Linked DNA regions of Homo sapiens: all the other regions are linked to region 1. The links come from fine-mapping of genetic effects on gene expression. A gene starts in region 1. Each other region holds a variant in brackets. All regions are shown on one strand. Distances are between the middles of the regions.

Region 1 (8,000 bases):
CGTGGCGTTGTGCACCTGTAGTCCCAGCTACTCAGGAGGCTGAGGCAGGAGAATTGCTAGAACCAGGGAGGTGGAGGTTCCAGTGAGCTGAGCTTGTGCCACTGCACTCCAGCCTGGGAAACAGAGTGAGACTCTGTCTCTAAAAAAAAAAAAAAAAAAAAGTGGGTAGAAAAACTTTTTGGATGTGACAGGACTTATCAGGCATCCTTTCTCAGGAATTTCTGGAAAGACACACCCCCGTGAAGTAAATGAGGAAATTTCTTTTTTTACATGGGGAAATTCCCCACATAGTAAGTCTACAAAAGGCCTGGAGAATGAATCCAGACTGGATAGGAATGTAGAGGATCCAATGGGAAAAACAAAAATGCAGGATAGGTATATGGCAGATATGATGGAATATCTGCAAAGAAATTAAGGGTATGTACATAGAAAACTATGCAATCTATTTTTTAAAAAGCAATCATTTATTCCAGTAGGGCAAGCTGCACAAAAAATGAAATACTGTCCCAGCACTTTGGGAGGCCGAGGCAGGTGGATCACCTGAGGTCGGGAGCTCGAGACCAGCCTGGCCAACATGGTGAAATCCCATCTCTACTAAAAATACAAAAAATTAGCTAGGCATGGTGGCAGGCACCTGTAATCCCAGCTACTTGGGAGACTGAGGTGGGAGAATAGCTTGAACCCGGGAGGCAAAGGTTGCAGTGAGCTGAGATGATGCCAAGGCACTCCAGCCTGGGCAACAGAGTGAGACTCTGTCTCAAGAAAAAAAAAAAAAGAAAAAGAAAAGAAATACTGTACATTACTTGGTTCTGAAGTACATAGACACCACATGGTTAAAAGGTAAACAATGATTACTAATTTAACAAAAAATTATGATTTAATTACACTGGGACAATGTAGATAAATTATGTTAGTTAAAAAACAAGAATTGAATATTTAAAAATGATAATTCAAGAAAATTAGTGTAAAATTTTATTTTAAAATATGGTAATAAACACTAGAAGAATCAGCTACAGGTTTTAAAAGTGGTTGCATCTGAGAGAGAAACAGGGGTGTGGGGGAGAATAAGGGTGAAGAATAGTTATTTTTACTTTGAAAAATATTTTAAATTATAACACAAACAAGAGTTTCTAAATTTTGAAAGTGCATTGCATTAATAAAAAAATTAATTGGGATATTTGTTTTAACTTATCAGAACACATGCCATTTACATCTTTTAAATTTCCTTAATTTCTAATAAAAAAAAAATCACCTCTATGCAGTTAGTTCACTTCTCATATACACTCAACTTCAGTTTCTTCCCCACTCCAAGCATGCTGACATTCACTACCCAAAAACACTTCTCAAGGGAAATAAGTTCCTGTTTATCCATTTATAACTTTCCCCTCAAAGTTCTAGTTCAAGGCCATTTTTCTTTTTAACATGAGTTTGAGTTTACTCAAAATACTGTAGAGTCTGAGAACTAATCAGCCCACACAGGGACTTTTTAAATACAGCTTCCTAAGTAGTCTTTAATCTTCTACAAACCAATTCATTCTGCATATAGTTTACAAGTAAATCAATTTAAAATACTGTTTTCATCATCTCTCCTTTGCACAAGGACCTGATGATTCCCCTCTTCTAATGGGACAGCATTCAAACTCTTTTTTGTATCTGAAGGCTCCCAGTCTGCCCTTCTTATCTCATGTTCTTAGTCCTTAACTCCCCGAAGTGTACCTTCCACTTTTGTCAGGCAGATCTTTCTACCTCCTCTTCATAACATGCTGTTCTTACTTTTATCTCTTATAAATGCTCTGTCCCCAAAATTGAACTTCCAAGTTGAACGTCTTCACCTAACTTTTTATTTATACTAAGGTCAAGCTCAAGTTCCATGACTCTGGAAGCTGCCCCTTTGGCCTGCACTGACCCATCTCTTCTTGCTTGAATTCAGACAGCCACGAATGCTTGCTTCAAATGAATGTAGTTTCAAAACTGTGTTGGGTCACTATCATGGAGGTAGAGGTGTGGGAGTGGTCATTGTTTCATGCAATGCCAACCACAGAAAAGAAAAATAACTATTACTTGAACATTTTAAAAATTCAGATAATTAAACTTGAATTCCTTCCAAGTCAACCTTAAAAACTCACCATCAGTCAATTAAACAAAAAAATTAGAACACTGACTTTTTCCCCACTGCAAAATAGGCCCCTCTTCCACAAAACACAACACATGGCTAATACAATGAGACTACTGTGAGTGACTGCTGCCTCAAGATGAGGCACAGAACGAGACACATTCAAGAAGGGATACGAGGGATACGAGATTGCAAGGAAATAAAGGGTGTTTATATAGAAACAAACCTGGATCCACTCAAATTTATTTCTTTAAAGTCATTTTTAAACTTTGGTATTTTCACTATTTTTCCAAAAAATCACTTGCTACTCATACCTCACAAACAGTGGTTTTGCATCCCAACACTAAGGCTGACTTTAAAGACAACCAATCAGCTACTGCATATCCATTATTATATTAATGACTAAAGTTTTATCAAAATAATCATATTTGTACTTACTTGAAAGATACCTTTACTTTGGGTTTAAAATAGGGTGCATTCTGGTCTGCCAAAAAGACGATTAAGTCATTTCCTAAAGAAAACAAATATATGATATTAGAAAAATGTTTGTTGATAAGATATCTAATCAGTGGTTACAAGAAGGTTTCTGGGCACTGTTCTCAACAAGAAAACTTTTATTCTACTCCAGTTCATCTGCCCTCTCAAGCATAGTCCCACTAGTCCAATGGAGATGCCTAACATTATATCACAAGTTCAATGTTCAAAGTAGCAGAGAAATAGAAAGGATGAACATGGGAAAAAGCAGCTGATCAAGAGAAACTGAAGCCAGTGGATTCTGCGAGGAGTCAGATTGGTTGACTTAAAAGAACCATATAAAGATGCCTTATAACTATACTACATGTCAAGACTTGTCTTCCCCGAATCTAGCAATGCTGTCCCTTGTAAGGCTGTTTGGTTCATTACACAGATGCATCACACCAAGGATGCAGGGACTCCCATTGTAGATATCTGACAAAGACATAATTAAGCATGTGAGCACAAAATGCTGAATCCTCCAAGACCCTCCTCCTATGGGGCCATCCTCCAGAGGGTGACACATTCTTGGAGCTCAATTAGCACTCATTGAGACAGACTTTTGGAATTGTTTAATCAAACACAGGCCATCTTTAAAGTCAAGGCTACTCTCTGTATCCAGTTTGGACACAGCAGCAACAGGTTTGGCAGTACACTGCAAAATGAGGAGTCAAAAAGATTGGGAAAATATTCAGGGTTTGTAAGAGGTTCCTGCATCCCCGCAAGGGCTCCAAGAAGTCTGGTTCAGGATCCTGTCAGGCAAGCTCTGAGTAGCTCTTCCTTCCTTCCTTCACAGCATTGATCTTTAAGCAGCACCTGCTTCTGTAGGTACTCAAGAACCCTAAGACCCCCTAATGCCCACTGTCAGCATCAAGATTTACAAAAAAGTTAGTTTAACGATTGTCAAAGCAAAGAATTTCCAAGAACAAGTTAGCAAAGAAAGTAGACATTTGGAACACTAAGGTGATGACCAAGATGAGGAAGGAGTACACGAAAGAACAGGCAGCTCAAGAGAGAAATTTCTGTAGTTTGAGACTGCTTTCCCAAGGAGGCATTGGGTTTATCAGTGGTCCCTGCAAAATGCTTGTGTGAGCTGTTTAGTGTTTAGGCCCTTGGAAGGGTACATTCGCTTCATAGAAAGTTGTGGCCTTGACAAAGAAAGGGGTGGGCGAATTAGGTAGGTGGGGAGGCAAGAAGAAGCCCCCTATGAGAAGAGATTGTCAGGTTGCACCTTTTCATGTTCATCAACGGGGAAGGAAGACTGAAGCAAAATAGAAAGGAATGAGTGGGCCTTGGGAGCGAACGTTGAGGCAAGCTACAAAGATTCCTAGGAATCAGGAAGCACTTTGGAAAACAGGTGATTCCATGGGGAGGAGGGGGTAAGGTGACTGGGTGAGGGCCGCAGACTTCTTAGGAACAAAACTGAGGTGCTGTCAGGGCTTTTGAGGGTAGGTCAAACTGTAGGGTAGCTGGGTCAGAACCTGGGGTTGGAAAGGGTGGTGCAAAAGGACAAGCTGTTAAGAATGCTAAAGGGAAGGCCACAGGGCTGGGAGAGAAGGACCAGGAAATGCAGAAGGACCGGCCATTGGGCAATGGGTTTGGGGAACACCGGGAGAGGCACACGGACAGCGAACAGAGGGAGGGCCCGGCAAGCACTGACTTTCCCGCAGCACGAAGAGATCCGTCTGCTTGTCGGAGTTGAGGTCCCCGAAAGCCGCAAGGGTGCCCCAGGCCTCGGCCCCAAAGAGCTCGGCCGTGACGTTGTGCAGCGCCCGCGCTGGGACCGGCCCGACTCCCAGTAGTGCAAGCCCTGCGAGGAGCGGCGAGAAGAGGGCCCAGGAGCTCGGGAGCCGGCCCGCCGCCGCCATGGCAGCCCCTCAGCCCCCGCCCGCCGGCCCAACGCCGCGCTTGACGACAGCCGCAAAGCACCGCGTTACCGGCCGAGAGAGTGGCGCGCAGCCCCGGGACGCGTAAGAGCCGCTGCCGGCTCCTTTTTCTCTCTCCCACTAGGGCTGCCCTTCCGACGCTAAAAAAGCAGTGGAGCTAGGGTGAAAGCCGCCCTCACGCTCACTTCCGGCAGGCGCGCCTCCCGACAGTGTCGTGCGGGGGGCGTGGCCCGGCATTGCTGACAGGCGGCCCCGGGGGCGGTGGCCAAGGCGGCGACCGGAGCGCGATGGCGGGGGCGGCGGGACTCACGGCAGAAGTGAGCTGGAAGGTCTTGGAGCGAAGAGCTCGGACCAAGCGCTCAGGTTTGGCTGGCTGGGGCGCCGCCCCCCACCCGAGTACCTTGGGTGGTGCTTCGCCTCAAGCGCCTTGGCGGGAGGCAGGTGGGGGCCCTGGGAATGAACCTGTGCCCCGAGTTCCTCCTTAGAAAGCAGGTGGCGGCCCTGGCCTTGTTTCTAATATCTTCCTCCACCTCTAAAAATTAGGTGGCAGAGCCAGCTCCACTCTGCGTGTGCCCCCGACTCTATTCCGCTTGTGAGCCCCACTCGGAAAGTAGGCAGCGGTCCGGACTTCCCTTAGAGTCTTCTAACTTAAAAATCGGGCGGCGGCACATTCCTGGGAAAGGGAATGTGTCTTCCCTGTGAATGTGTCTTTCCTGTGAATGTTCTCTGCAAAAGTCAGATAGCTTAATCAGACCAAGTCAGATGTAACTACGATCTGGCTGCAGAAAGCCGGCGTCTGGGCTCCTTGCTTTATGTCTTATATCCCTTTTACATTCCCCACAGGTTCTAAGCAGTAGACCTGTCATCTATCTAGCAGAAACTGAAGGAGACTGGGCCTCAGATATTGAAGAGTATAGTTAGGGCCCAGAAAGAAAAGGGCTTCTTAAGTGGCCCCAGGTTGTGTGGTTTCCAAACCCGAAAGCATAGAGGTCAGAAGGTGCCTTGCAGGCAGTTTTAACAGTTCCAAGTGTCCCGAACTGACTTGTTCAAATTGCAACGTCATGACTTGTGGCGTTATTAAAACTTCCTGTATTCCTGGTTGGCTGGATATAATCTTGAACAAAAGGCATGCACTTAAACAGGAAAGGTGAAAGGCGGAATGCAGGTTTTCAGCTAAGGAGCTTCCCTTTTAAAGAATTGATGAAGTGTCATTATTGGGGGTGGGTGTGAAAGGTGTTAGCTAGGAAAATTAACTTTGCACTTGCATTGATATTAAGAAATTATTTTCGGACGGGCGCGGTGGCTCACGCCTGTAATCCCAGCACTTTGGGAGGCCGAGGCGGGCGGATCACCTGAGGTCAGGAGTTCGAGACCAGCCTGGCCAACCTGGTAAAACCCCATCTCTACTAAAAATACAAAAATTACCTGGGCGTGGTGGCGGGCGCCTGTAACCCCAGCTACTCGGGAGTCTGAGGCAGAAGAATTGCTTGAACCTGGGAGGCGGAGGCTGCAGTGAGTGGAGGTCGCACCACTGCACTCCAGCGTGGGCGACAGAGTGAGACTCCGTCTCAAAAAAAAAAAAAATTATTTTCTCACCTAATATGTTCTCCTTACGTTTTGGGCTTTTCCTATTTATGAAGTTCTTAGTTGTCTGTTGTGCACACTGACTTTTTTTTTTTTTTTTTTGGAGAAAGTAAATCTAATTTCTGAAAATCTAATTTCAGAAATCATACACCGAACACTCTGTTTTTTTATACCTTACAAAAAGTTCAGCTTTATATACTTAGGGTTATAGTAAAATTACCATCTATGAAGTATGAGATAATTTTTTCAAAAAGTAGTCCTTAGTACTACTAAGAATCAATAAAGTGACTTGGAATAGTCACATGTATTTGTTTCACACTTTTTCTTAAATTGTTTTTGTGTGATATAGAAATACTGAGTTGGCTACTAACGATGTGGCTATCTGGATATAAAAAGTGTTATTGGATTGGTTATGTCTGAACAAAGAGAATAACTGGAGTTTTCTTACAGGGACCTGAGTACTGCCCCCAACATATATTTTTGCAACATTTCTCTTTAACTTTCATAAGCTCATAGAGTTGATTTTCTTCGTCAGTCTTTGTTTCCTCTGAAATGCATGTCATAACAGTAAGCTTTGAAAACCTTAATTCTCTTTTCTTAGCTGAGAAAAAAAATTCTAGTGTTAACTGTTGTTGAGTGCAGTTATTTAAATCCACTTTTATGTGCAAAGTGCATAGTATCAATGTTGAATGTTCCTGTATGTTTACATCATAGTAGTAAAGAGATACCACTTGAAGTTATTCCTCCAAATTAATAGTTAAATTTGAGGTTTCAGATTCTTGTAAGTATATGAAGTACAGAGGATAAAGTTAATAACTCGAGTTAATAACTTCCTGTATCATTAAAAGCAATCAACTTGATTCTGTTTGTTACTTTTAGAAGAATATATAAATGGAGCTTTGTTAAACACTTGACTAACCTGACTCCAGTATAGAGTCCTCCCCACAGAGTTCTGAGCATTGTTACATAGTAGCATAATTACTTCACTGCACAACAGAGGATACTACTTTTATGTAATGTCTAATAAGTGGATATTATATAGTTTCTATCTCATCCATATGAGCAAGTGTAATTTATCAAAGCAAAGAAAATCACATTTTCAAGTCATAAAAGAGAAAATAAAATTATAATGATCCTCAGTTACTGCCTTTGTTGCATACTGCATCATGTTAATAACTGCTCACACTGCTTTCAATTAATTTAACACTGATTGCTTCTAACCTTTACTAAACAGTTTTAAAATTGCTATAGCTTAGCCTGCGACGCTTATGATTAGAGCCAACAATTTGAAATGGCCTGCTCACCTGATGCAGTCGTCTCTCCGTCTTCCGCTTTCTTAAGGTCTGGTAAGTGTTGTAGACCCCAAAAGGGTCACTTGGTAATTTTAAATACCTTTGTTTCTGAAGGTTGATTTCACTATAAGATATCATTATGTCTTTATTTCTTCTTTGGTGGGCCCAGGCCTGAGTACCCGGCTGGTGTTTTGTTTAACTTTGCATTGTGTTTTGAATGTGGCCTATTGTGTTCTTCTCATGTGGGATGTGAAAAGAACAGAGAGTGGAGTGCCTGCCCCGATATTTGCAAGCAGAGGCAGTTCCTTAGTGTCTGGGAGCTCCCATTGTCAAATGTGCACATAGCATATTTCTTAAATGATTTTTGTCTTCTTGCCACAATGGAAGTAACTTCTACAAATTAGGAAATTTTGGTCAACATCCCACTTATCTGTTCTTCATCAGCTTACTGTGAAGCAGGTTATTAATATACACGTTTTCACAGACAGGAAGCGACTTGCCCCAGGGAATATTTTGAGGCCATGTGCTTTGGCCTTTATCCTGTGGCATCCTGGTGTAAGGGCTGGAACAGATGTTGGCACAATGGCTCTTAGACCGTTGTGTTGATGCACC
Region 2 (8,000 bases), 970 kb before region 1:
GCATAAACTAAGATCTATCATGCACACAGAAAACAAAAAATCAGGGGTCATTATTCTTATATCAGATTAACACACTTTAAACCAACAACAGTTTTTAAAAATGACAAAGAAGAAGACGATAAAGAATGATACACAATGATAAAAGAACTCAATTCAACAAGAAGGCATAAATATTTTTAAATATATAGGCACCCAACCCTGGAGCATCGGATTTCTAAAACAAGTACTTCTAGATCTATGAAAAGACTTAGTTAGCCACCCAATTATAGTTAAAAATTTCAACACCTCATTGGCAGCATTAGACAAATTGCTGACACAGAAAAGTAACAAAGACATTCTAGAATTAAATTTAACATTTCACCTATTGAACTTAATTGACACTTACAGAATCCTCCACCCAACAATCACAGAATGTACTTTCTTCTCATCGGCACAGGGAACACACTCTGAGATCGACCACATGCTCAGCCATAAAGCAACTCTCAATACATTTTTTAAAAACTGAAAGTATACCAAGCATAATATCTCAGACCCTAGTGGAATAAAAATAGAAATCCATACCAAAAATTTCTCTCAATGTCACATAATTATATGAAAATTAAACAACTTGCTCCTGAATGACTTTTGGGTAAACAACAAAATAAAGACAGATATTAAAAACTCTTGAAAATAAATAAAAACAGAGACAGAACACGCCAAAATTTCTGGGATACAGCAAAACCAGTATTAAGAAAAAAGATTATAGCACTAAATACAGACATCAAGAAGCCAGAAAGGTCTCAAACTAACAAAATCGCACCTACTAGAACTAGCAAAACAAAAACCAAATAACCTCAAAGCTAGCAGAAGTAAAGAAATAACTAAAACCAGAGCAGAACTGAATAAATTTGCGACACAAAAATCCTTACAAGTAATCAACAAAACCAAAAGTTTGTCCTTTGAAAGGATAAATGAGATCGATAGCTAGCTAGCTACATTAACAAAGAAAAAATAGAGAAGATTCAAATAAACACAATCAGAAATGGCAAAGATGGCATTACAATGGATCCCACAGAAATACAAAATATCATCAAAGACTATTATGAACACCTCTATGCACAGAAACTAAGAAATCTAGAGGAAATGGATAAATTCCCAGAAATACAAAACCTCCCAAGATTGAACCAAGACGAAATTAAAATCCTTAACAGACAATAACAAGTTCTGAAATGGAATCAGTAATTTAGAAACCTAGTAACCAAAGAAAAAGCCCTGAACCTATTGGATTCAGAGCCAAATTCTACCAGACATACAAAGAAGATCTGTTACCAATCCTACTGAAACTATTCCAAAGTATCGAGTTTGAGAGACTCCTCCCTAACTCATTCTATGAATACAGCATCATCTTGATATTAAAAGCTGAAAGAGATGCAGTGAAAAAAGAAAACTGCAGGACAATATCTCTGAAGAACATAGACACAAAAATTCTCAACAAAACATTAACAAACCAAATCTTGCAACACATCAAAAATTCACTTTTTTTTTTTTTTTTTTTTTTTTGAGACGGAGTCTCGCTCTGTGGCCCAGGCTGGAGTGCAGTGGCGTGATCTCAGCTCACTGTAAGCTCCACCTCCCGGATTCAAGCCATTCTCCTGCCTCAGCCTCCCGAGTAGCTGGGACTACAGGTGTCCACCACCATGCCCAGCTAATTTTTTTGTATTTTTAGTAGAGACGGGGTTTCACTGTGTTAGCCAGGATGGTCTCGATCTCCTGACCTCGTGATCCACCCACCTCGGCCTCCCAAAGTGCTGGGATTACAGGCAAGAGCCACCGTGCCTGACCCAAAATTCACTTTTTTACAATCTGACAGGCTTTATTTCTGGGATGCAAAGTTGGTTCAACATATACAAAGTAATAAATGTGATTCACCACATAAACAGAATTCTTAAAAACCACATGATCGTCTCAACAGATGCAGGAAAAACTTTCAGTAGACTCGCAATATTCCTTCATGATCAAAACATTCAACAAATTAGGCATCAAAGTAACATACCTGAAAATAATGACAGCCACCTATGACAAACACACAGCCAACATCATACTCGATGGGCTAACCTTGGAACCATTTTCCTTCAGAACTGGAACAAGAAAAAGATGCCCACTCTCTCCATTCCTATTCAACATAGTACTAGAAGTCCTAGCCAGGGCAATCAGGCAAGAGAAAGGAATTAAAGGCATCCAAGTAAGAACTGAAGAAGTCAAACTATCTCTCTTTTCAGATGATATGATTGTACACCTAGACAGCCCTAAAGACTGTCAAAACGCTCCTAGATCTGACAGCAATTTCAGTAAAGTTTCTAGTTACAAAATCAACGTGGAAATATTAGCAGCATTTCAATACACCAATAGTGTTTAAGGTGAAAGCCAAATCAAGAACACAATCCCATTTATAAATAGCCACAAAAAAAAAAATACCGGGAAATGCATCTGACCAAATAAATGAAAGATTTCTACAAGAAGAACTATACACAATGCCAAAAGAAATCAGAAATTAAACAAACAAATGAAAAAAATCCATGCTCATGGATTGGAAGAATGAGTATCATCAAAATGCTTATACTGCCCAATGCAATCTACAAATTCAATCCACACTATTCCTATCAAGCTACCAACACCATTTTTTCACAGCGTTAGGAAAAATGACTCTAAAACTCATAGAACCAAAAAAGAGCCACACTAGCCAACCAATCCTGAGGAAAAAAAAGCTGGAGGCATCAGTCTACCTGACTTCAAATTATATTACAAGGATACAGTAACCACAACACACGGTTTTGGTATAAAAGCAAATACAAAGACCAACAGAAAGAATAGAGAACCCAGAAATTAATCCACATATTTACAGCCATCTTATTTTTGATAAAATGTCAAGAACATCCATGGGGGAAAGAACATTCTCATCAACAAATAAGGCTGGGAACACTGGATATCTGTAGGCAGAAGAATGAAACTAGATCCTTATAGTTCTCCATATACAGAAATCTACTGTAAATGGATTAAAGAAAATTTAAGAACCAAAATTATAAAACTACTAGAAGAGAACATAGCAGAAATGCTTCAGTACCTTGGTCTAGGCAAAGCTGTGATGACTAAAACATCAAAAACACAGGCGAAAACTGACCAATGAGACTATATTAAAATTTAAGTTTCTTCATAGCAAAGGGAACAACCAACAGAGTGAAGAGACAATCTGTAGAATGGAAGAAAATGTTTGCAATTTATTCATCTGACAAAGGTCTAATATTCAGCTTATATAAAGAGCTCAAACAACCCAACAGCAAAAACAAAATTAATAATCTGATTAAAAAGTGGGCAAAGGATCTGAATAGACATTTTTCAAAAGAAGATGTACAAATGGCCAACAAATATATGAAAAATACTCAACATCAGTAATTATCAGGAAATGAAATAAATCTGCAATGAGATATCATCTCACTACAGTTAGAATGGCTACTATCAAAAAGACAGAAAGTAAAAAATGCTGGTGAGGTTGCAGAAAAAGGAAACTCTTATGCACTGTTGGAGGGAATGTAAATTAGTATAGCCATTAAGGAAAACAGTATGGAGGTTTCTTAAAAACTAAAAATAGAACTATAAAACAATCCAACAATCCCACTACTGAGTATTTATCAAAAAGAAAGAAAATAAATGTATCAAAGAAATACCAGCACTGCCATTTTTATTGTATCACTATTTATAATTACTAAGATATGGAATCCACCTAAATGTTTATCAACAGATGAATGCATAAAGAAAATGTGGTATCTGTACACAATGGAAGACTATTCAGCCATAAAATAGAATAAAATTATATCATTCTCAGCCACATAGATGACCTTAGAGGACATTATGTTAAGTAGAATAAGTCAGGCACAGAAGAACAAATGCTGTATGTTCTCACTCATGTGGGAGCTAAATTTTTTTTAAAAATGAGTTCGTGGTAGTAGAGAAAAGAACTGTGGACATTAGAGTCTGGGAAATGAAGGGGAGTGGGGGATGGGGTGAGGTTGGTTAATGGAAAAGAAATTATCACTAGATAGAATGAACTCTAGTGTTCTGTGGCATTGTAGGGTGAATATGATTAACTATGATTTATTGTATTTTTT[TG/T]AAAGCTAGAAGAGAGGATTATAAATGTTCACAAAAAAAAGAATGGTAAATGGTTGAAGTGCTTGATATAATAATTAACCTGATTTGACGATTATACGTTGTTTACATGTATCAAAATATTACTGTGTATCCTATAAATATGTACAAATATACATGACCACAGAATATAAAAGAAAGCCAGGCATGGCGTAACATGCCTGTAGTCACAGCAATTTGGGAGGCTGAAGCAGAAGGATCCCTTGAGCTCAGGAGTTTAAGGCCAGCCTGAGTAACACAGTGAGATCCATTTCTAATATACATAAATAGATAAATAATAAAAATAGAAGAAAAAAATTTATCCTATAAAGAAGTAGACTGTGGGCCAACCCTACTGACTTGCCTCTAATGAAGAAATGTGGTAAAAGTGATACCACGTGTCTTCCAACATTAAGTTAGAAAAGGCCCTCTACCTCACACTGCTTGTCCTTGGAACTTAGACCCCACGTTGTGAGGAAGCTCAGGCCACAAAGATAGCCTAAGAGTTCCAATGAAGGTATTTCAGCTGCCTGCCCCAACTAAAGTTTCAGTCAATGGCCATCATGAACAACCAGACAGTTAGGGAACATGCCTTCATAGGATTCCAGTCCTCCAACCTCTGATTTATCCCAAGTGAAGCTCAGGGGAATGGAGACAAGCTGTCCTGGCCAAAGTTTTCCCCACCCACAGATGGCTGAACTAAATAAATGTTGTTTTCAGCAACTCAACTTTGGGTAATTTGTTAGGAAAAAATAAACAGAAAATTTGATTTAAACAAAGAGACATCAAGAAAAAATAACTTATGGGAGCCAAGATGGCCAAATAGGAACAGCTCCAGTCTACAGCTCCCAGCGTGAGCAACACAGAAGACGGGTGATTTCTGCATTTCCAGCTGAGGTACCAGGTTCATCTCATTGGGGAGTGCCAGACAGTGGGTGCAGGACAGTGGGTGCAGTGCACCGTGCGGGAGCCAAAGCAGGGCGAGGCATCGTCTCACCTGGGAAGCGCAAGGGGTCAGGGAATTCCCTTTCCTAGTCAAAGAAAAGGGTGACAGATGGCACCTGGAAAAACGGGTCACTCCCACCCTAATACTGCACTTTTCCAATGGGCTTAACAAACGGCACACCAGGAGATTATATCCCGCACATGGCTCGGAGGGTCCTACGCCCATGGAGCCTCGCTCATTGCTAGCACAGCAGTCTGAGATCAAACTGCAAGGTGGCAGCAAGGCTGGCGGAGGGGCGCCCGCCATTGCTGAGGCTTGAGTAGGTAAACAAAGCACCTGGGAAGCTCGAACTGGGTGGAGCCCACCACAGCTCAAGGAGGCCTGCCTGCCTCTGTAGGCTCCATATCTGGGGGCAGGGCACAGACCAACAAAAGGCAGCAGTAACCTCTGCAGACTTAAATGTCCCTGTCTGACAGCTTTGAAGAGAGTAGTGGTTCTCCCAGCACGCAGCTTGAGATCTGAGAACAGGCAGACTGCCTCCTCCAGTGGGTCCCAGACCCCCAAGTAGTCTAACTGGGAGGCACCCCCCAGTAGGGGCGGACTGACACCTCACACGGCCAGGTACTCCTCTGAGTCAAAACTTCCAAAGGAACGATCAGGCAGCAGCATTTGCGGTTCACCAATATCTGCTGTTCTGCAGCCACCGCTGCTGATACCCAGGCAAACAGGGTCTGGAATGGACCTCGAGCAAACTCCAACAGACCTGCAGCTGAGGGTCCTGACTTTTAGAAGGAAAACTTAACAAACAGTAAGCACATCCACACCAAAAACCCATCTGTACATCACCATCATCAAAGACTGAAGGCAGATAAAGCCACAAAGATGGGGGAAAAAACAGAGCAGAAAAACTGGAAACTCTAAAAATCAGAGCACCTCTCCTCCTCCAAAGGAATGCAGCTCCTCATCAGCAATGGAACAAAGCTGGACGGAAAACGACTTTGACGAGTTGAAAGAAGAAGGCTTCAGAAGATCAAACTACTCCGAGCTAAAGGAGGAAGTTTGAACCAATGGCAAAGAAGTTAAAAACCTTGAAAAAAATTAGATGAATGGCTAACTAGAATAACCAATGCAGAGAAGTCCTTAAAGGAGCTGATGGAGCTGAAAACCATGGCATGAGAACTACATGATGAATGCACAAGCCTCAGGAGCTGATGCGATCAACTGGAAGAAAGGGTATCAGCGATGGAAGATGAAATGAATGAAATGAAGTGAGAAGATACGTTTAGAGAAAAAAGAATAAAAACAAATGAACAAAGCCTCCAAGAAATATGGGACTATGTGAAAAGACCAAATCTACGTCTGATTGGTGTACCTGAAAGTGACAGGGAGAAAAGAACCAAGTTTGAAAACACTCTGCAGGATATTATCCAGGAGAACTTCTCCAATGTAACAAGGCAGGGCAACATTCAAATTCAGGAAATACAGAGAATGCCACAAAGATACTCCTCGAGAAGAGCAACTCCAAGACACATAATTGTCAGATTCACCAAAGTTGAAATGAAGGAAAAAATATTAAGGGCAGCCAGAGAGAAAGGTGGGGTTACCCACAAAGAGAAGCCCAACAGACTAACAGCTGATCTCTCAGCAGAAACTCTACAAGCCAGAAGAGAGTGGGGCCAATATTCAACATTCTTAAAGAAAAGAATTTTCAACCCAGAATTTCATATCCAGCCAAACTAAGCTTCATAAGTGAAGGAGAAATAAAACACTTTACAGACAAGCAAATGCTGAGAGATTTTGTCACCACCAGGCCTGCCCTAAAAGAGCTCCTGAAGCAAGCACTAAACATGGAAAGGAACAACCAGTACCAGCCACTGCAAAAACATGCCAAATTGTAAAGACCATTGAGGCTAGCAAGAAACTGCATCAACTAATGAGCAAAATAACCAGCTAACATCATAATGACAGGACCAAATTCACACATAACAATACTAACCTTAAATGTAAATGGGCTAAATGATCCAATTAAAAGACACAGACTGGCAAATTGGATAAAGAGTCCAGACCCATCAGTGTGCTGTATTCAGGAAACCCATCTCACATACAGAGACACACATAGGCTCAACATAAAGGGATGGAGGAAGATCTACCAAGCAAATGGAAAACAAACAAAGGCAGGGGTTGCAATCCTAGTCTTGGATAAAACAGACTTTAAACCAACAAAGATCAAAAGAGACAAAGAAGGCCATTACATAATGGTAAAGGGATCAATTCAACAAGAAGAGCTAACTATCCTAAATATACATGCACCCAATACAGGAGCACCCAGATTCATAAAGCAAGTCCTTAGTGATCTACAAAGAGACTTAGACTCCCACACAATAATAATTGGAGACTTTAATACCCCATTGTCAACATTAGACAGATCAACAAGACAGAAAGTTAACAAGGATATCCAGGAATTGAACTCAGCTCTGCACCAAGCAGACCTAAGAGACTCTACAGAACTCTCCACCCTAAATCAACAGAATATACATTCTTTTCAGCACCACACCACACCTATTCCAAAATTGACCACATAGTTGGAAGTAAAGCACTCCTCAGCAAATGTAAAAGAACAGAAATTATAACAAACTGTCTCTCAGACCACAGTGCAATCAAACTAGAACTCCGGATTAAGAAACTCACTCAAAACCGCTCAACTACATGGAAACTGAACAACCTGCTCCTGAATGACTACCAGGTACATAATGAAATGAAGACAGAAATAAAGATGTTCTTTGAAACTAACGAGAACAAAGACACAACACACCAGAATCTCTGGGACACATTCAAAGCAGTGTGTGGAGGGAAATTTATAGCACTAAATGCCCACAAGAGAAAGCAGGAAAGATCT
Region 3 (8,000 bases), 380 kb after region 1:
CTCCAGGAGCTTGCCACAAGTGCCAGAAATATGGCCACTGGGCCAAGGAATGCCCACAGCCCGGGATTCCTCCTAAGCTGTGTCCCATCTGTGTGGGACCCCACTGGAAATTAGACTGTCCAACTCACCCAGCAGCCACTCCTAGAGCCCTTGGAACTCTGGCCCAAGGCTCTCCGACTGACTCCTTTCCAGATCTTCTCAGCTTAGCTGCTGAAGACTGACACTGCCTGATCGCCTCGGAAGCCTACAGGACCATTAAAGACACCGAGCTTTAGGTAACTCTTACAGTGGAGGGTAAGTCCTTCCCCTTCTTAATCAATATGGAGGCTACCCACTCCACATTACCTTCTTTTCAAGGGCCTGTTTCCCTTGCTTCCATAACTGTTGTGGGTATTGATGGCCAGGCTTCTAAACCCCTTAAAACTCCCCAACTCTAGTGCCAACTTGGACAATATTCTTTTATGCACTCCTTTTCAGTTATCCCAACCTGTCCAGTTCCCTTATTAGGTCTAGGCATTTTAACTAAATTAGCTGCTTCCCTGACTATTCCAAGGCTACAGCCACACCTCATTGCCGCCCTTTTCCCCAGTTCAAAGCCTCCTTCACATCCTTCCCTTGTATCTCCCCACCTTAATCCACAAGTATAGTACAACTCTACTCTCTCCTTGGTGACTGATCATACACCCCTTACCATCCCATTAAAACCAAATCACCCTTACCCCACTCAATGCCAATATTCCATCCCACAGCATGCTTTAAAAGGATTAAAGCCTGTTATCCATCACCTGTTACAGTATGGCCTTTTAAAGCCTATAAACTCTCCTTACAATTCCCCCATTTTACCTGTTCAAAAACCAGACAAGCCTTACAGCTTAGTTCAGGATCTGTGCCTTATCAACCAAATTGTTTTGCCTATCTACCCTGTAGTGTCAAACCCATATACTCTCCTATCCTCAATACCTCCCTCCACAACCCATTATTCTGTTCTGGATCTCAAACATGCTTTCTTTACTATTCCTTTGCACCCTTTATCCCAGCCTTTCTTCACTTTCACTTGGACTGACCCTGACACCCATCAGGCTCAGCAAATTACCTGGGCTGTACTGCCTCAAGGCTTCACAGACAGCCCCCATTACTTCAGTCAAGCCCAGATTTCTTCCTCATCTGTTACCTATCTCGGCATAATTCTCATGAAAACACAAGTGCTCTCCTGCTGATCATGTCCAGCTAATCTCCCAAACCCAAATCCCTTCTACAAAACAACTCCTTTCCTCCCTAGGCATGGTTAGGTACTTCTGCCTAGGTACCTAGGTACCTAGGATACCTAGTTTTACCATCCTGACTAAACCATTATATAAACTCACAAAAGCAAACCTAGCTGACCCCACAGAGCCTAAATCCTAGCTGACCCCACAGAGCCTAAATCCTTTCCCCACTCCCCTTTCTGTTCCTTAAAAACAGCCCTAAAAGCTGCTCCCACACTAGATCTCCCTAACTCATCCCAACCTTTTTCATTACACACAGCCGAAGTGCAGGGCTGTGTGGTTGCAATTCTTACACAAGGACCAGGACCACGCCCTATAGCCTTTCTGTCCAAACAACTTGACCTTACTCTTTTAGCCTAGCCCTCATGTCTGCGTGCAGTGGCTGCCACTGTTTTAATACTTTTAGAGACCCTCAAAATCACAAACTATGCTCAACTCACTCTGTACATTTCTCATAACTTCCAAAATCTATTTTCTTCCTCCCACCTGATGCATATACTTTCTGCTCCCCGGCTCCTTCAGCTATACTCACTCTTTGTTAAGTCTCCCACAATTACCATTGTTCCGGACTTCAATCCAGCCTCCCACATTATTCCTGATACCACACCTGACCCCCACGACTGTATCTTTCTGATCCACCTGACATTCACTCCATTTCCCCATATTTCCTTCTTTCCTGTTCCTCACCCTGAACACACTTGGTTTATTGATGGCAGTTCCACTAGGCCTAATCGCCACTCACCAGCAAAGGCAGGCTATGCTATAGTATCTTCCACACCTATCATTGAGGCTACCACTCTGCCCCCTCCACTACCTCTCAGCAAGCTGAACTATTGCCTTAACTCAGGCCCTCACTCTTGCAAAGGGACTACACATCAATATTTATACTGACTCTAAATATGTCTTCCATGTCCTGCACCACCATGCTCTTATATGGGCTGAAAGAGGTTTCCTGTCTATGCAAGGGTCCTCCATCATTAATGCCTCTTTAATAAAAATGCTTCTCAAAACTGCTTTACTTCCAAAGGAAGCTGGAGTCATTTGTTGCAAAGGCCATCAAAAGGCATCAGATTCCATGGCTCAGGACAATGCTTATGCTGATAAGTTAGCTAAAAAAGCAGCTAGCATTCCAACTTCTATCACTCACGGCAGTTTTCCTCCTTCTCATCTGGCCACTCCCACCTACTCCCCGACTAAAACTTCCACCTATCAATCTCTTCCCACACAAGGCAAATAGTTCTTAGACCATGGAAAATATCTCCTTCCAGCCTCACAGGCCCATTCTATCCTGTCATCATTTCATAACCTCTTCCATGTAGGTTACAAGCTGCTAGCCCACCTCTTAGAAGCTCTCATTTCCTTTCCATCGTGGAAATCTATCCTTAAGGAAATCACTTCTCAGTGTTCCATCTGCTATTCTACTACTCCTCAGGGATTGTTCAGGCACCCCCCCCACCCTTCCCTACACATCAAACTCAGGGATTTGCCCCTGCTCAGGACTGGCAAATTGACTTTACTCACATGCCTCGAGTCAGGAAACTAAAATACCTCTTGGTCTGGGTAGACACTTTCACTGGATGGGTAGAGGCCTTTCCCACAGGGTCTGAGAAGGCCACTGCAGTCATTTCTTCCCATCTGTCAGATATAATTCCTCGGTTTGGCCTTCCTACCTCTATACAGTCTGATAACGGACCAGCCTTTATTAGTCAACTCACCCAAGCAGTTTCTCAGGCTCTTGGTACTCAGTGAACTAATGGTCTTTTAAAAACACACCTCACCAAGCTCAGCCACCAACTTAAAAAGGACTGGACAATACTCTTAACACTTTCCCTTCTGAGAATTTGGGCCTGTCCTTGGAATGCTACAGGGTACAGCCCATTTGAGCTCCTGTGTAGACCCTCCTTTTTCTTAGGGCCCAGTCTCATTCCAGACACCAGGTCAATTTGGACTGTGCCCCAAAAAACTTGTCATCTCTACTATCTTCTGTCTAGTCATACTCCTATTCACCATTCTCAACTACTCATAAATGCCCTGCCCTTGTTTACACTGCCAGTTTACACTGTTTCTCCAAGCCATCACAGCTGATATCTCCTGGTGCTATCCCCAAACCACCACTCTCAACTCTTAAATAAATAATCTTTGCTGGCAGGGCTATGCTGAACTTCCTTAGGCACTCTCTAATTGGATGTCCTAGGTCCTCCCAATTCTTAGTCCTTTAATACCTGTTTTTCTCCTTCTCTTATTCCGTTTAGTTTTTCAATTCATACAAAACCATATCCAGGCCATCACCAATAATTCTATATGACAAATGCTCCTTCCAACAACCCCACAATATCACCCCTTACCACAAAATCTTCCTTCAGCTTAATCTCTCCCACTCTAGGTTCCCATCCCACCCCTAATCCCACTCAAAGCAGCTCTGAGAAACATCGCCC[G/A]TTATCTCTCCATACCATCCCCCCAAATTTTTGCTGCCCCAACACTTTACCACTGTTTCATTTTATTTTTCTTATTAATATAAGAAGACACTGATAATGGATTAATATCCATAATATATAGTAAACTCCTAAAACTCAACACCAAAAAAGGAAACAACATAATTCAGCAATGTTCAAAGGACTTGAATATACATTGAATCTCCAAAGATTTACAGATGGCCAATAAGCACATGAAACGATGCCCAATATCACTGAATTACTGATCATTAGGGAACCGCAAAGAAAAACTACCATGTGATACCACCTCCCACCGATTAGAATGGCTGCTATTAAAAAAAAAAAAAAAAGAAACCACAGAAAACAAGTGTTAGTGAGGATATGGAGAAATAGGAACCCTTGTGCACTGCTGCTGGGAATGTAAAATGGCACAGCTGCTATGGAAAACAGTATGAAACTTCCTCAAGAAAATTAAAAATAGAATTACCATATGATTCAGCAATTCCACTTCTGGATATATATCCACAAGAATTGAAAGCAAGGTCTTGAAGAGATCTTTGCACACCCATGTTCATAGCAGCATGATTCCCAATAGCCCAAAGGTGGAAGCAATCCCAATGTCCATTGACAGATGAATGGATACACACATATATACATATTTATTAATTTGTTAGTGCCACCATAACCAAATATCACAAACTGGGTGGCTTAAACAACAGAAATTTATTCTCTTACAGCTGCGGATGCTACAAGTCCAAGATCAAGGTGTGGCAGGGTTGGGTTATCTGAGGCCTTTCTCCGTGGCTGGCAGGGGACTGCCTTCCTGCCATGTCCTTCCATTCATCCCTTCTCTGTGTAAGTGCCTCCCTGGTGTCTCTTCCTCTTCCTATAGAGACAGTAGTCCTATTAGGTTAGGGCTCTACACTTACGACTTCATGTAACCCTAATTACCTCTTTAAAGGCCCTATTTCCAAATATAGTTATATTGGGGGTTAACTAAGGCTTCTACACTTGGGTAAGGGCACAATTCAATCTATAACAACTTGTAATAGAATATCATTCAGCCTTAAGAGGAAGGAAGTCTGTTACCTGCAAAAATATGGATTAACCTTGAGGACATTATCACCAAGTCTACACCAAAGACTCCCATCATGTGATTTTTAAAAACTGTTGTTCCCTCTCCTGCCAGCCAGAGCACCCACCCCTTCTGCCTGCATCTTCCTGTCACATACCTCTGAGCCTTTGTACACTGCTATTTTCTCTCCTGGAATGTCTTCTCTTCGCTCCCCTCATCAGAGCAAATCTTGTTCACCCTTCTAAGCCCAGCCAAAGTGCTGTCTTTGAAGTTCCTATTCCTGAAGTAGAGCTCATGTCTCTTCTGTGTTCCTCCAGTTCTTTGTACAACATGCTAGATCACAACTCTCTCTCTTTCAGCCTCCTCCACCAAACCGTAAGCTCTCAAAGGCACAGAGTCTCTCCTCTCTCCTCATTCATGCCTTGTACAATGACCATACATGGTAGATACCAATGTTTGTTGAGTGAATGCAGGCGCAGGTAGGCAAACAATGGTAAGGGAATTAAGACTAGCATGGCTCAATCATATTTGGTTACCTTGTCCATTCAAAGTGTGGTGGCAAAGTGTGGTACGTGTATCAATAGTGGCCCACAGGATGACTTTAGGTAGCACCTGGATGAACCCATTTTTACATAGTTATGTAACCGCCCAATGTGTTAATTTTGCCTGCTGGTCAGGCAGAGCTGACTTATCAAGATGGGGGAATTGCATTAGAGTAAGAGTTTAATTCAAGAAGAGCCAGCTGAATGGGAGACTGGAATTTTATTACTCAAATCAGTCTCCCTGAACATGTGGAGACTAGGGTTTTTCAAGGATAGTTTGGCAGGCCAGAGAATGGGTGCTGTTGATTGGTTGAGGATGCCATCATAGGGGTGTGGAAAGTGATCCTCCTGCATGCTCAGTCTGCTTCTGAGTGGGACCACCGGACCCCTTGGTAGGTCCAGGTGGAGCCATCTGTCATCAGAAATGAAAAAACCTGAAAAGACATCTTAAGAGGCTAATCTTATGTTCTACAAGAGTGATTTATCTGCAGGAATAATTGGGAAAGTTGCAAATCTTGTGAACCCCAGCATAATGACTGGTAATCCTTTACATGTTAGCAGAATTCAGGCTCATGTCATCCTCCTGACCTGGTGGTCTTTCATTAGCCTTACAAAAGTGGTAGAGTTTCGGGGAAGGGATATTACCATTTGAAGTATAAACTAAATGTCTCCCAGAGTTAACTTGGACTAGGCCCAGGAATAATTAGGGCAGTTTGGAGGTTAAAGGCAAGATGGAAGTGAGTTAGATCAGATCTCATTCATTGTCATAATTTTCTCACTGTTATAATTTTTCCAAAGGTGGTTTCAGTTATAAGCTCACATTAACGTGTTCTAGAAAAGATATAACTACATCTGAAACCTGCAATTTCATGGATCTCATTGCTTCTTGAAGGAAATAAAGATATTTTACTCCAAAATCTATTTATTTGACATATTTTGAAATGGCTGCCACAGAGCCAACAGACAGAAGTGGCTTGCAAAGCTGTCTTTTGTGGGGGAAATTTGCATCTGTAGAGAATCTCCATGGATGCAGCCAGGCCTTCCGTTTCTAGGCCTTTCCTGGATCTATGGGAGATTGAGAGTCTGACCCTTTAAATGTCAGAAAAGGGACATTTACCATATGTTCTCTTTAGGGCTGCCACCCAAGAGGCTTACTCTACATAATGAGACCCCCTTTGGTAGCCAGGCCCCTTCCTCTCCCCTTCTCATAACCTGCCTTGGCACTAAACTTGATCTACCAACCTAACCTGTTTTGGGCCATGCTCTGAGCATGCATTATTTCTATAACCTCGAGATGCTATGCAAGCTTTGGAACCTAACCAGGGAATTACATCATCATTCTCAAGGTTCCTGTGTATACATATTACACACATTTGTCTGCCTTTTGTGAGTTGATTTTTCAGCAGAACTTCAGAGGGTCAAGGGGAAAGCTCTTCCTTGGCCCTCAGTTCTCATGAGGCTAAGTAAGAAGAAGTCAATTTAACTAAAACCGAGTAAGTAATGCTACAGGTGGCTCACAGGCATGGCAAAAATCTGAAATGTTGGAAGAAGGAGAAACATGGGGCTAGTCTTTAGTCTCATTTTTAGGCAGAAGTATAGACTGATGTTCCCAATGACATTTGGAGAATGGTATTTTCCATGATTCATTCTTCTTTTCAATCTTCACTAGCAGGAAGCAGTGGCGTGAGCTGGGGAGGGGAAGTAAAGGCGTCCTTAATCGTGTCTCCACCTGCCTTCCAAGATGCTGCCTTCGATTTTGTTTTGAGTAAGGGATGATAAGCCATCCTCTTAGAGAGCATCAGCTCATTCCTTTCATAGCCAAGCTCATCAGCATTTCTGGTGATTGTGTATTGTGGTATCTGCAAACAAGTGATGTATATTCTGCAGGCTTTTCAACCAGGATATTTGTAAGATACATGTTAAAAAGATGGGTCTTGGTTTGCTTCCAAGTCACAAAAATGTGAATCCTCTTTAAAAATGGTATTTGCACCTAAAGCTGACCTATGGAATGGAGTGGAGGTGGGCAGGTGGTAACCAGGAGGTGGCAAGGGGAGGAAGAGCCAGATGGGGGGAGGTGGTAGTAGTATTTTTTATATTACAGGAAGATGTTTTGCCTTACAAAAGGATTAATCACAGGGTTCCTTTTAAGCAGAAAGTTTCATGCATTTTAAAAGATGATTTGATTTACAAGAAACTTTTCAGGAACACAGCTGCTGGGCAAAGCAAGCTATTTACACTGACTTGAAATCCATTTTATGAGCCAGGAGTCTGGGGTGTCAGGGGGAGTGATAAAACTCCTTTAGGTTTTAATTGACAAGTGATATTGACTAGCACAGTTAGGAGCCCAGGTATTGGGCCTGGTCCAGCGTGTTCCCATAGTAAATATGCGTGAATGTGCTGAGTGCTTGAGTATTGATTCATTTATTTACCTGTTTGGCTGTTGCTGTGAAAGGCTTTGTATTTTGCAGCTTTGGAGCCAAGCTGCCTTTCACAGAAGGCTGTGTTAGAATGTACTAGATTGTTCAGCATGAATCATCTGGCTCGATGGCCTATGGGGAGGGAGCTTGGCCTCGTACATCACTGCAAGACAGAGACTCAAAGACATCTGTGGAGGGGAGGCACACAGGGGGTTAGGGAGCCACAGGAATGAGGAGATGAGATCTTTTTCTCAAAAACAAGCCTTAGG
Region 4 (8,000 bases), 32 kb after region 1:
GTTTAGTTTTTGCTTATTAATTTGTTTAAATTGCTTACAGATTCTGGATATTAGACCTTTGTTGGATGCAGAGTTTGCAAATTTTTTTCCCATTCTCTAGATTGTCTGTTTGCTCTATCGGTAGTTTCTTTTGCTGTGAAGAAGCTCTTTAGTTTAATTAGGTTCCAATTGTCAATTTTTGTTTTTGTTTTTGTTGCAATTGCATTTGGATTCTTTGTTATAAATCTTTGCCATGGCCTATGTCCAGAATGATATTTCCTAGCTTTTCTTCTAGGGTTTTTATGGTTTTAAGTTTTACATTTAAGTCTTTAATCCACTATGAGCTGATTTTTATACATGGTAAAAGAAAGGGATCCAGTTTCAATCTTCTGCATATGACTAGCCAATTATCCCAGTACCATTTATTGAATAGGGAGTCATTTCCCCAATGCTTGTTTTCTTCAATGTTGTCAAAGATCTGGTGGTTGTAGGTGTGCAGCTTTATTTCTGGTTTCTGTAGCCTGTTCCATTGGTCTATGTGTCTGTTTTTATACTAGTACCATGCTGTTTTGGTTACCGTAGCTGCCTTGTGGTGTGTTTGAAATCAGGTAGTGTGATGCCTCCAGCTTTGTTCTTTTCTTAGGATTGCTTTGGCTATTGCCTCTCTTTTGGTTCCATATGAATTAAAAAAATTTTTTTTTCTATTTCTGTGTAAAATGTCATTGGTAGTTTGATAGGAGTATCATTGAATTTGTAAATTGCTTTGAGTAGTATGGCTGTTTTTTTATTTGTATTTGTATTTTTTTGAGACAGAGTCTTGCTCTGCCGCCCAGGCTGGAGCGCAGTGGTGCAATCTTCACTCACTGTGACCACCTCCCAAGTTCAAGTGATTCTCCCTGCCTCAGCCTCCCGAGTATCTGGGACTACAGGTGCATGCCACCATGGCTGGCTAATTTTTTGTATTTTTAGTAGAGATGGGGTTTCACCATGTTAGCCAGGATGGTCTCGATCTCCTGACCTCGTGAGGAGAACTCCAGTGAGTTTAGAATTTAATGACAAATGTGTGATATGTTTTGAAACATAATTTCTCTTCCTCCAGTACTCATTTTTGCTAAAAAACAAAACGAAACAAATCATGATAGGACTGAGTTGTTTGCAACATAGACTTTAGTCTTATACTTATCCTGACTATTTGCATAAAGTACAGCAAGAATAACTATTTCTACATAGGCTTTTTAGATTGGTTTCGATGGAACTCTGTTCCACAAGGAATCTCAGATAAGACCTTTTAAAGCTGAGCCCAGCCATGGGTTTGTATCCTCAAATACCCTGTGAGTTGGGTAACCCTCTCTTAAGGTCCCAAGATAAACTTGGAGTTCGTAGGCCTGTTAGAAAGTGACATTCTTTACTGACCATGGGTTAGGAGCACTGTACAAGAACTGCGTAGGCAATGGTATGAGGCCAGTTTTTACCATGGGGCTTTTATTAGCTATGCAAGTTGAGCTTGACTCTTTAAAGGGAAGCATACCGTTCCAGTGAAATCTTGGTAAAACAACCAGTTTCTCCAATTGTGTCCTGCTGCAAAAGAAAAATGGATTCTTATTGCACTGATGCAAACATCTATATTGCCATAAGTTAAGAATACTCACAGATAGTTTCCAGGTTCATGAGGAATCAGGCAGAGAGAAACAAACATGCTCCAAATTTTGTTCACAGGAATATACCTTACTCAATTATTAAAGGCTATAAATAGTTTAAAATAAGTTTCCTTCACACTGAAAAACAAAACAAGGATCAGCAATATTTCAAGCAGAAGTCAAAAATAATTGCTTCAGCTTTCTGAGTTCAGTCCATTTAGTTCTTGATTTCTTGATATTCATGAACATTTCAGCTCTTCATGAGTCCTGTACATTTTTTCTTTATTCCAATATTACAATCTACAAAGTTATCAGAAACCTGTATTTGAGAGCACCTGTCAAAGTTCTATCACTTACTATAAACCATCTTTTGAAAAGAATTAGAAGAAGACAACAATTATCTGTGAATAGAAATGTCCAGGGTAGTTACAGTTAGAAACATAATTGACAAAGAAGTTTGGTGATCTCTGTGGTTTATAATAGCTTAACCTTATGTTTGCTAACATATACTTAGACATTAAATTTTAGAAATTCCATACAGTTTTGGAGCAAATATTAGTATTCACCAAAATATAACCTAAAGAAGATTGAACATCATTCTGGCAATCCCATGTAACTAAACATGTCAGATGATCCTGTTTACCTCTTTTCTGGAGGCTCCAGGGGCCCTCTAAAGCCTTCCAAAAGCCAGGTATCAGGAAAGGCAATTATGAGGCTCAAGTTTGATTTTGGGAAGCCTGTTAAATATGTTAGAGGATTAACACACTTGATGTTATGAAATTGATTTCCAGATTACCATAAATTATTTGACTGAGAAATTTTAATGAAGCAAAAACCTTTTATAACCCTTTCCAAATTTTGCCAAAGGGCAGATCAGTGCCCCAAGAGTACCCTGTTGTGCTTTCATTCCAATGCTCAACCCACAGAGAAACCACATAATAACCCCCAGAACCTAGTCAACATGTTCACACAGAAAGCCTCTTCTGCAAGAATCATTTCCACGATCCTTCTGCCACTTGTTTGAACCTTCAGCTTTACCTTATCTAATTCAAAACAATTCTTTAACCCTAGCCAATACTTTACATTTTCCTATCTTCTAATAATCTTTCATTAAAAACACATTTTACTGTTCTTATACACCTAGCATGTAAATCTATTTCCAGTAGTTTCAATTATGTGTTTTAATGGTACCTCCTAGCAATTTGAACTTTAATGTAAATCCTGGCAAGTTGTTTTAATTGTGTGCCAGATACAGCCAGCATAATTGACTCCTTCCAGCATAAGTAAGGGTGTGGTTAATTCTATATGTCTATAAGGGGACAGACATATAGTTCTATATGTTTGTAAGGAAGTATATGTCCCTTACAGACATATAGAACTATGTCTATATGTCAATTGCCTTACCAGTTGTGAAGCAAGCAAGTCAAATAGTTCTTAAAACCCAAAAGGCAGTTTGTAACCTTAAAACATTTAGTGAGCCTAGTATCTAACCTGCATAATTTAGTCCTCCTATTTACATATTGGTGACATCTGCATTTTACTAATAATCTTTAAGGCTGTTGTTATTTCCCAAAGATTAAAGTCACGTGAACTAAAAGGTACCATAGCTTTTATCTTCCCTTTAAAAAATATTTCATCCAAGCACTTTTCTTCCTTTAGGCCAATTACTTAGAGGTCTTTTTATAGACATCACACTCAACACATATATAGCTACACTGACAGGCAGACTAGAAGAAGATTCAGTAGTTGCAAGACCTTTCATTTGCCAGTCTTTATGTATCTCTCATAATGTGAAGTAATTTCTGATACTCCCAAAAGTAAAAAATGCCAGATAACACAATGCAAAACAGAACAGAACCCTAAATTCTGAGAGGGATTTATCCACTTCCAGTTCCTGGGGTTTCATGAGGAAAACAGAGGTTTTTTGCAAAATGGGGTATCTGGCGCCCCGTGTTTTTCCCAAGGAGTCCCAGGCTGTTGGAGCTTGAATATCTGCTTTTAATTAAACTGACTTTTAGCCATAGCACTCTTTAATAAGGTCCTTTTAAAATTTCTTAATACCTGACTTTAGCCAGGCCAAACAGCTGATATTTCTGGCTTTCAAACTTTACTAAAGGCTCAGAGAAAGAAAATCCAAGTCAGTTTGTGGAGGGGCAGGGAATCAAAAAATGGCAAAGGTCCTGCAGATATCAAACTAGAAAGAACTCATTTCCTAAGGCAGGATTGAACTCCTGGCTGCCATTGTAAAATGGTGAGGCTAGAACAAAACATTGCCACGTGGTTGCAGGCCTTGCTCCCAAGGATGTAAAACAGAATGGAGGCCTGCCACAAAGTTTGCTATGGAAAGATGGACAAAGTACACTAGATTGGCTACAGATTAAGACCAGCCTCACAAATCCTTTTTCACAATTAAAACTCTACTGAGAATATAAACAGTGATCCTTATCATTCCTAGCCTAGTTAAAATGTCTTCTAAAAGGAAAAAAAAGCTAATTTAAAAGTCAACTGCTGATCTGGTGGAGAAAAGGAAAGAAAAAACCAGTTTAAAATGCCTAAAGAGGAACCTCTTATTTTTATGCAAATGGATGCCTCCATCAGTGAGAAAGACTTCATTACTGTTCAAGGGAGTGGGACCTTCTGGCTGGGGGAGCGGAAGGCTCTATGGATGCATGGCAGGGAGAGCTGCCTGCTGTTGGGCACCCTTGGTTCACGCACCCCAGCCTTGGCAGGGAGGGGAGGGTGGCGGGAGCTGCTGCTCGCCCTTCCGTCACAAAAAAGAAAGGAAAATGCCATGGAGACTGAGGCTGACCTTCTCAACACCTGGGAGTGACAGGGGTTGGGGCATGGTTTCCCCTGCCCTCAGAAGTCTGAGGATGAAAAGGCTTAAAAATGAGATAAAAATAGATTTGGTTTGCATCTCACTCACCCTTTCTTAAGCCCCA[C/T]GTTGGGTGCTAAACTGTTGTAGGACTTTCTCCTTAGTTCACCTAAAAATGGGGTCCTTGTCACACAACCATGAGAGATTAGGCTTGCAGGCACTTTAAAGGGCAAGAAAAATTTATCGGGCAAAAAGGAAAACAAAGGTAAACAGAGAGTCTCAGCAAAGCCAAAGTCTTGCTAGCTGGCTTCCGCCTCATAGATTGAATCCTAGGTACCACCCTGGAACAGGGGAGATCAGGCTCCTCCCTCTGGCAAACAGTGCGCACTTCCTGAGGCTCCACCCCGTTGCACACTCCTCCCAGTGTGCAGGCCAGTTGGAAGTTCTCTGGGGACCTCTTTATGCTTGCTGTCTCATTCCTGAAATGAGGCCAGTACACCAGGAGCAGGAGGGGGGAAGGGAAGAGCAGTTAGAATAAACAGAAAGAGGAAGAGGAACAATTTCAGCAGCACTTTTCATTTTAAAAGTCACTTTATAAAATTTTACATTTTCCTTTTGCAAAGAAATAACTTTGTCAGAACCTCTTTTAGAAACTTCTAAGTATCATTGAAAATAGCTCTCCTAGTTATTTTATTTTAGAGCTAGCTTTTTAAAATTGAGAGTACAGATAAACTAGTTGAGGTATTTTAAAAGTACACTATTTCGACCGTTGTAATTTGGGGTCGTCTTTAGTTACGTGTGACCAGTTTTCTAAATGTTAGCATGAAGAGGCACCATAAGCATTAAATATAAATCCAGCTGGTGTTTCTAAAGGTGGGTCACCCTTTAAGGACAAAGTCTAGGTTTTAGAGATAGTTGTCCATAATTTTCGTTTTCCTTCCTGAATGACCAGAAACCTAGTGGGACTCATGAGAGCCTTTTATTATTTTGGTCACTCAAGAACATTTTAGATTTATCAATTGAACCAAGCTTCAGAATTTAACTGGTTTTTAAAATTACATGTTTTTCACTTAAGCCTCAAAGATTCACTTCCTCTTTTCAAAGACCAAAGTTTAAACTATAGAAAAGGTTGAAAAACTCCAACTAGTAGTTCAAAATAAAACCTTAACTTCAGAGAAAAATGAAAGTCACAAATCCGAGGTCAACAGATCTCTAGAGAATAACAAATGAAACTCTTGCCTTTTATAGAGCTTCACTTCCAACCTCAACTAGTTAAGAATATGTACAAATTGAATAAAGTCTTAATCCTTAATCAAGCCAGGAGGATTCAGATCCCAACAGGGGCCTTAGCAGAGATTCCTGCTGACTTTGGCAAGGTTGGGTGAAGGAGGACTTATCGTATTGGTACCAAGGTGCTGATTGCTGGTAAAGTGGTGGGGCTCTCTAGAGGTCCACTTCCGATCTCATCTAGGGTACCAAAATGTTAACCTTAAATAACTAGATTCCGAAAATGTGATTCATTATAGAGTATTCAAGCCTAAATCTATGTGGAAGCATAGATAGAAGCTGCCCTGAATATATCTTCTGATTAGCATCAGTTACAGGTGGATTTTAAAGGAAAGAGGCAGCTTCTAAGTTGTGTTTCCAGTAACTTATATTAATATAATAAAAGTTATTGATTAGCTCTATATTGTTCTTTGTATCACAAATTCCAGGAACTGGAAGATAATGGGTAAGGCAGCTAGTCAGGAACAAAAATGCCTGTAAACATGGCCCTTGGGTGTGGGTGCATAGGAAGGAAAGTGTGATTGAAGTCCCTTACTCTTGTCTTCCTGAGCCTGGTAAGTTTTGCATACCTCACCTAGCTCAGTCTGCTCTGAGCTATTTTTCTCCTATCATTGATAAGTTTTATTTTACTTTGTGATGTTTGCGTATAGACATAATGCGAATGGGAAAAGCATGGAAAAGAAAAATTAACATTTTACAATTTCATTTCAATTGGAACATTTAGTAGAATTTTCTGTTATTTTGTAGCTCTTTAATTTGCTTTGGGAATTCATGCTCTATTAATTGCTGTCTCCATTTTTACTGGCATTGATGCTTTCCAGATGTCCTATTTTTGTTTAAAATGTTAACATTGATTACTTTTCCTTTGACTTAGATTTGTGGTATTGTTTACCATAAATTGTGTAGAACATCCTTGTTAATTGTGTAGAACATCCTTGTTTAATTTTATGTAGTTACTTTAGAAACAATACAATGATGATCACTAAAATAATAACATTTATCTAACCAAGCTGTTCTTGACTTATCATGGGCGTTCTTTGAATGTATAATTTAGATGATTTTACTTTTACCCTTTTCTGCTATGCTTTGAACATCTTCTATTTTTCCTCTTACTGAATAGATACTTATTTTCTTGAGAGGTCTGATTTTCCTTTTGTTTATTTATTGTTGCCTCTAACAGAACTCCTTTTTTTTTTTTTTTAAGAAAAATTAGATGACAGAATCACTATAGTCCCTTAGTTCTTAAATATCCTAGCACTTTTAAAAATAAATATTTTTAAATCTAAAATCTTGGTATAAATATCATCAAAACAATCTCTCAAAATCAATTCACCTACCATTGTAATGCAGGTTGATTTAAGTTTGCATATTCTATATCCATATGCTCATGTATCATTTAATTTTAATGGAATTATATACTCAGCTCTTGGTGATTTATGTTTTGTATGTAAAGCAAAATACTACCTCTACTAATAGAGATCTAAATAAAAACAGAAATGTTACCCGCAATTCTTCCACCTCAGCAAAGGTGTCCCCTTTAATTTTTATATATACATATGCACAATTTATAAATTATGATTATTTGTACCTAATTTATTTTCTTTCATAGTGAATGAGCTTCACTGGGAGTGTATAGACTCCTAGAGCTTATTACCTTATGCTCTAGCAGTGGCATATTACTCCTTTCTGATTGCCAGGCTACCCATATGCTTATACCTGCCTGGAGCTAGTTGAATACAGGAAGGCAAGGGCATGACTGGAGGGGGCTGGGTCCTTTCCTTTGAAGCAGGAAAGGAGTACTGATGTTCTGTATGTTGATAGGTCTCTCCGTTCCTCACTATGGACCCATTCCTGTTGGTGCCATTGTGAATACTCTTGTAAGAAAATCTTCTTTTCGCTCAGAGCAAGTCTTATCTACAAATTACCTATCTTTTCAGCAGAAGATAATGAGACTGTTGCCTGAATGTATAGGCCCTTTCTTTACGTTCTTCTTATTGTTACTATCTGCGTAAACATAAAGGCTTCCCAAAACCTTGGCTTTAAACTAGGATGTTGGACACAGCAATTTTATGAGCATAAAGGCTTTAATTTTCTTTAAAAACAGAATCTTAATCTGTGCCAATGTGATTTCTGCCACTAGGTAAATTATAGGTTCATTTTTGTGCTATGTTCTTAGACTATATGGTATACATTACCTGAATCCAGAGATGGATTAATTGTGACCTTGAGTTGTTTTTAATTTCTGAGTGCTTTTAACAAGAATGAGAGACAGTACTTAGTCT

The links. PIP is the estimated chance that this variant, and not a neighbour inherited with it, causes the effect.
Region 2: its variant is fine-mapped to the expression of PHKB in cerebellar hemisphere (GTEx, PIP above 0.99).
Region 3: its variant is fine-mapped to the expression of PHKB in whole blood (INTERVAL, PIP above 0.99).
Region 4: its variant is fine-mapped to the expression of PHKB in whole blood (TOPMed, PIP 0.92).

The regions. Positions count from the first base shown.
Region 1 is chr16:47,456,552-47,464,551 of GRCh38, forward strand. It overlaps PHKB (phosphorylase kinase regulatory subunit beta), which reads left to right and starts at 4,780. Exons shown (of 31, transcript NM_000293.3): 1 at 4,780-4,875. The coding sequence starts at 4,800. ITFG1 (integrin alpha FG-GAP repeat containing 1) reads right to left here and starts at 4,512. Exons shown (of 18, transcript NM_030790.5): 1 at 4,287-4,512; 2 at 2,552-2,624. The coding sequence starts at 4,494. RefSeq lists a silencer at 4,421-4,890.
Region 2 is chr16:46,484,898-46,492,897 of GRCh38, forward strand. It overlaps the pseudogene ANKRD26P1. Among named protein-coding and RNA genes, the nearest start is that of SHCBP1, 130 kb to the right of the region's middle. The variant TG/T (reference allele first, on the strand shown) is at 4,143.
Region 3 is chr16:47,840,783-47,848,782 of GRCh38, forward strand. No RefSeq gene overlaps it. Among named protein-coding and RNA genes, the nearest start is that of LINC02133, 14 kb to the right of the region's middle. RefSeq lists an enhancer at 7,721-8,000. The variant G/A (reference allele first, on the strand shown) is at 3,701.
Region 4 is chr16:47,488,287-47,496,286 of GRCh38, forward strand. All of the region lies in intron 1 of PHKB (phosphorylase kinase regulatory subunit beta), which reads left to right. Among named protein-coding and RNA genes, the nearest start is that of PHKB, 31 kb to the left of the region's middle. RefSeq lists enhancers at 3,817-4,339, 4,631-4,700. The variant C/T (reference allele first, on the strand shown) is at 4,559.